Regions from separate parts of the Homo sapiens genome. Here region 2 is linked to region 1. The links come from fine-mapping of genetic effects on gene expression. A gene starts in region 1. The other region holds a variant in brackets. All regions are shown on one strand. Distances are between the middles of the regions. Region 1 holds the start of MAT2A (methionine adenosyltransferase 2A). Region 2 has its middle 38 kb from the start of PARTICL.

The links. PIP is the estimated chance that this variant, and not a neighbour inherited with it, causes the effect. A credible set is the group of variants that fine-mapping cannot tell apart.
Region 2: its variant is the best candidate, but not a certain one, in a credible set for the expression of MAT2A in whole blood (TOPMed, PIP 0.68).

What each region holds. Positions count from the first base shown.
Region 1 is chr2:85,537,745-85,540,648 of GRCh38, reverse strand. MAT2A (methionine adenosyltransferase 2A) reads right to left here and starts at 1,481. Exons shown (of 9, transcript NM_005911.6): 1 at 1,271-1,481. The coding sequence starts at 1,361. It overlaps PARTICL (promoter of MAT2A antisense radiation-induced circulating long non-coding RNA), which reads left to right and starts at 1,763. Exons shown (of 1, transcript NR_038942.1): 1 at 1,763-2,904. RefSeq lists silencers at 894-1,223, 1,404-1,673 and enhancers at 1,704-1,793, 1,864-2,073, 2,474-2,563.
Region 2 is chr2:85,499,887-85,502,790 of GRCh38, reverse strand. No RefSeq gene overlaps it. Among named protein-coding and RNA genes, the nearest start is that of PARTICL, 38 kb to the left of the region's middle. The variant T/A (reference allele first, on the strand shown) is at 1,219.

The DNA.
Region 1 (2,904 bases):
GAGTTGCGCAGGAAACAAAAGCTCAACAGTGTAGAAGATGCTCAAACGTATTCCGAATCCATGTCTCCCTGCTTTGTCATCTATTGTTAGGAGGGAGAACAAATATCTCCCTAATTCAAGTTCGTTTTTCTGAATTTTCTATAACCGCCTAAAACAGAATCCAAACATAATGTGGAAGCCAGACTGCAGGCTCTGAACTTCGGTCTACTACTAACTGGTGTAACAGCTAACCTTCAGCACTCATCAAGATCCTGGGTTTGTCCTCTCATACCACTAAGTTACTTGTGGGATTTCATCATGGGCACAGTAAACTGACCAGACCCTAAAGCCACCAGATAGATAACTACTGCGGTCATCCTAAGGGCAGAAACAGCCAAAAGAGCCAAATAATCATCTTTACTAGCCGATATGCTCAGGCTGAGATTTTCAGTTCCTGGAAATATAGCTTTACTCCTCCTTCACGTGCCAATTGATCCCCATAATGGCGGTTGAGCGGACAAAGCCTCAAGTAAAACCCTGCACCGAAGACTTTAAATGCGAACCCAAAGCAATGGCAGCTCCTAATTCATGCTTCCCATCCTTTTCACAAGGGGTCCAAATAAGGACTGCCTTCTTGGACATGAGCTATATTTAGTCAGAGGCCGTCACCTTGGAGGCAAGGCCATATCCGCCGAAGGGCATGTGCGTATTCTCCAGTGTGTAGTCAAGACCTAACCACTGAGGCAGTGGAGCCAGACGACGTCCCAAGGCATAGGCCCCCCACCCCTCAAACTGAGGGCCAGGACAGCCGGGGAGGCTCACGGCTCCCCCTCGCCCAGATACCACATGCGGCAAACACGTGGTCGCCGCTGCAATGCGGGGCGCGCGCTCCCGAGGGCCGGACGCGAGCACGCGGGGCGGGTCGCCCACTCCAGGTTTGTCAGACGGCAGGGCCGGGAGGGGTTAACAGTGCCCTCCCTTCCCGGCCAGAACTCACTAGCGACCACAGCCCCCGCCCTTCACGTTTTCTGGAACCTTCCGCATGCCTAGGCGCGCGACCGAATGAAAAGGGAGGGGGGAAGGGAAGGGTGGAGAGGGGAGGGGGAAGAGGAGCGGCGGCCACGCGCCAGGCCCTGGCGGCGCCACGAGGAAAGCGCGCGGTCGCCGCTCTTCCATCACCCGGCGGACGAGGACGACCCGCGCGGGCCCCACCACCGGCCGGCCGCAGCCAGCCGGACCTTGGCGCTGCCTTCTGCCCCGCCCCACGCTTCGCTTCAGGCCGTCCCCTCACCTGGGTGGCCTTCCCCGACCGACTCTGAGGTGAAAAGGAATGTGCCCTCCTCGATGAACGCCTCGTGGAAGCCGTTGAGCTGTCCGTTCATGTTGGTGTCGGTGTGCGGAAGTGGCCTTACGAAGGAGCAGCGGCGAGGCGGCAGCGGCTGCGAAATGCGCAAGCTGCGGACAGCGTTCTACTCGTAGCAGGCGGGCGGCGCGGAGCGAACGAAGCAGCGGGCGGTGCGGCCCGGTATTTATAGAGCAGCGCCCGCGCGCGCCCGGCTCGGGCCCCGCCCCTCGGCGCCGCGCGCCAATGCACCACTTGCGCGGGGGTCGGGGGAGGAAGGGCAGCTCGCCCCGCGGAGTCCGGGCTGAACCACACTGCGCGGCCGCGGGAGGTGCCGTGGCAATCCGGCCCTCCAGAGACCGTTCAGCTATCTTGAGCCGCTAGAGCTAGGAGAAAAATGCAGACGCGAGGAGACGTGGGGGATTGCTCTTCCTTGTTTGATGTGGGAGAAAAAGCGACTGGGGCTTGCTGGACCCGCTCCCCTGTGCGGTGACATGGCACCTCCCTTCCGACCGTTGGCCGGGATAGCTTTCCCGGAGGTCGCGTCCCCCAGCGGAGGCGGCGGGAATCGCGGAGGTTTTGTGCTGCGGCTGGGGTCTTTCTGGCCGTCCCGCCTCTAGATGCCGGGTGGCAGGGAGCCGGTGGCGGTCGGCCATGTGAAGGTGGCCATCTTGGCCGGCCAGCGAGGGCTCCTCACGGCCTTCCTTCGGCGTCCCTGCCCGGCTCGTTGCCGGCCCCGGGATATCTGAGGGGCGCAGGCCCACCTTCTAGTCGTTTCCTGGTGAATGGCTCTGCTGAAGATGGCCGGAAAGCAGATTAATGAAGGTGCTGCCATCGATTTAAACAATCGCCCTCCTGCCCGCTCCCCTGCGCTAAAGTTTCTGAGGGATCCTCACCCTTCGTGGTTCGTGGACTTAAAAGTGGAGGCAGCGCTCCAGCCTTTCCCTCCAGAGAGAAAGGAGGCCGCTCCCAAGTCCGTCCTTGCCCCGTGGCCTTCCTGTTCCTTTGAAGGGGGGGGGAATCGATGTTTCAATCCTCTGTTCAGGAGAATATGGAACGAACATTTCTTTTTTGGTGGGTGGGGGCTATTCGTTCCCTTGAATGTGCTTAAGCAGATCTCTTGACGGCGTGGAATGGGCTGTTTCATGAAGCTTTCACTTTAAAATGTCCACCTGCGTTTGTCCCAGTTTTGCCCAATAAAGGAATTACAGGGAAAAAGAGCGAAACAAAACTTGAGCCAGCAAGGAGTATGGAGTCCCGTTTGGAGGGAGCCCGCCTTGGGGGCGGGGGTCTCTGCAGCCTGTTCTGGGGCTGGGCCTCGGTGCAGGTCTGGTCGGGCTGGTGGCCTGGTGGCCCTGAGCGGAGCGCGTGACAAGAACGCCGGGTTTAATGAGGTTCTCAGGGAACGGCCTGCTCCTAGCATGGGATGTACTTTACGCTGGGGAGGTGAAGGAGACCCCTAGTAACAGTCTCCAGCTGCCTACTGCTGGCGGCAGTAGAACAAGGTGCATTCCCAAGAACAATCCTCTCCGTCGGTGCAGGAGGAAAGGTGGGATTTGCTAAAGGCTCAGTGGGAAACAAAG
Region 2 (2,904 bases), 38 kb after region 1:
CATGTATGTGAGTGCAAAAACAGATAATTATCAGCATGAGCCAAAAAAAAAAAAAAAAAAATCAGGCTAAAATCAAAGAAGGGACACCAATGGGATCAAGAAGAGAAGGTCCAGAAAAGAATGCAGATGTTACTCCAAATGCATCTCTGTGTGTTCATATTGGCTGATGTAGGGGTGTGCACTGCCTGGACTACTGAAGTCCCAGCCCTCCAGAGTCCTCCTAGATCTCTGGTAATGCAAGAAGAATGTCCCTCCCTACTCTGGGGAGGCTGCTTCCTCCCCAGGTCAAAGCCATTGTTATTATCGGCTACAGATATTAGTGAGCACACTGGGCTACAAGGGGGACTAACATTTATGAAGTACCCAGTACTATGTGCACAACACGGTGCAAACCTTTCTTTTTGGGCAGCCAGGATGGAGTGCAGTGGTGCAATCAGGGCTCACAGCAGCCTCGAACTCCTAGGCCCAAGTGATCCTCCCATCTCAGCCTCCTGAGTAACTAGGACTACAGGCATGCATCACCATGCATGGCTGATTTTTTTTTTTTTGAAACGGAGTTTCACTCTTGTTGCCCAGGCTGGAGTGCAATGGTGCGATCTCAGCTCACTGCAACCTCCACCTCCCGGGTTCAAGCGATTCTCCTGCCTCAGCCTCCCAAGTAGCTGAGATTACAGCCATGAACCACCATGCCCAGCTAATTTTGTAGTTTTAGTAGAGATGAGGTTTCTCCATATTGGTCAAGCTGGTCTCGAACTTCCGACCTCAGGTGATTGGCCTGCCTCGGCCTCCCAGGTAGCTGGGAGGCATGAGCCACCATGCCCGGCCAAGGCTAATTTTAAATTTTTTTAAATTTGAAACCCTCCCCCTTGCCCCAGTTTTAAATTTGTTTGTAGGGACTGGGTCTCACTGTGTTGCCCAGGCTAGTCTTAAACTCCTGGCCTCAAGTGATCCTCCTGTCTTGACCTCACAAAGTGTTGGGACTACAGGCATGAGCCACCACGCCTGGCCGGCAAACATCTTATAGTACTCTGCAAGATAGGTATTGCTATCTTCATTTTATACAATAATAATAAATAACACTTACTAAGTTAAATAATACAAAATATGTAACACGTACTAATGCATTTAATCCTCGCAGTGGCCTTGTGAGGAAAGTACTACTATTATTCATCTCCACTTTTTGGAGGAGGAAGCTAAGGCAACTGAGGTTAACTAACT[T/A]CCTCAAGGTCACACAACTAATAAACGGCTGTGGTCAACTGCCTTTTCCTCTCGGAGTAATTCTCTGCCTTTCTGAGCCTTTGTGCTATATCACAGAGAACTGCGTTTCCCAGGCTCCCTTGCTCTCTGGCTTCCAGGTTGGTTCAGCCAATGGAAAGCTGGGAGAGAGGGAGGAGGTGGAGAGAAGCCAAGGTATCTCTCTCTCTTTCTCTTCTTCCTGTAGTGTCTCTGGCAACAGTTATGTCCTTAGGTGGCTCTCACATCTACTCTACAGGCCCTCCCTCCATGATCTCAGCTCCCATCAGGCAGCCTCTATGGGGTTTCAGATCCCACCAGATGGCCCCCACTCTGGGCTCTAGCTGCACTACCTCCTCCTACGTAACTCCCTGTATAGTAGCGTCTTGTGCTTCCATTAGACTTCTCAGTCCTTCCATTTCCAGTGCTGCCAATTCCCTGTATTAAATTCCTTCTGCCAGAGAGACCTAGAAGACTCTGTTTCCCTGGGTGGACCCTTACTTGTACCCAGACAATATGGCTGCAGAGCCCACAATCTTAACCTTTTCAGGTGAGAAAATAGACACAGACTTATATAACTTGCTCTAGGTTGCAAAACTAAAGTATAAAACAACCAAGAAAAATTTGGAAAATCAGAAAAACAAGAGGATGTCCTTTTAGATATCAAAAGATACCTTGAAGCTATAAGAATAAAAACAATGTGGTGCTGACCCTGAATCAGTGGAATAAATCAATGGAACAGAATCCAATTCAGAAACAACTATGGGAATAGAAGAATATTTTCTTCTTAAAGGGGGCATTTCAAAGAAGTGGAGAAATGCTATTAGAGGGATTAAGCCATTAATTTGGGGGAGAGTCCCAGAATAAATTTCAAATGGATTGAAGAGTTAAGCAACATGAAAGTACCAGAAATAAATAAAGAAGAACTAAGTCTTGGGATTAGGAAACTTCTTTCCAAGCAAGACTGAAAAACCAAAAGCCATAAAGGATAAAGCTGACAAATGTATAATTTACATGACAATTTAAAATGTTTGGTAGAGGAAAGAACCCAAAGCTCTAAAGAAATCTGTGCCTAGCTGGCTTTGTTTGAGATCTCCACTGTCCTCTGAAAATGGGGAAGGAAACTGAGACCGATTTCTTGGGTGCTCTTGCTGTTACTGCAATTCTAGCCCTTCCCCCAGCTCGAGGCACAAGGAGACGCTTCACAAAGCGAGAACCTGCCTGCTCCTTCATGCACAGTTTTCATTCGGTGCTAAAGCTGCAAAAATGAGATAAGCTGAAGCCAAAAGGTATTTGGAAAGTGGAGATGAATAGGTCAGGAACTCTGTACTCTTTTTAAAGAACGTTATCTATTTGGCCTACTTATTCTTTGGTCATGAGTGCTTGAGGGAAGGCAAGGACGACAGGACAAAGAAGACTGGGAATAACTGAAAACCTGGGCCTCAAAAGCAGTAGGGGAGAGGTGATATCTCCAGAGCAGCAGGACAGGCGAATGGAGCATTTGGTTCTCAATTCGTTTATATTAGTAAGTATGAGACCTTTCCTCTTACACGTTTTGTTTTTGTTTTATTTTTTCAGATAGAGTCTTGCTTTGTTGCCCAGGCTGGAGTGCAATGGCACGATCTCGGCTCACTGCAACCTCCTCCTCTTGGGTTCAAGTGATTCTCCTGC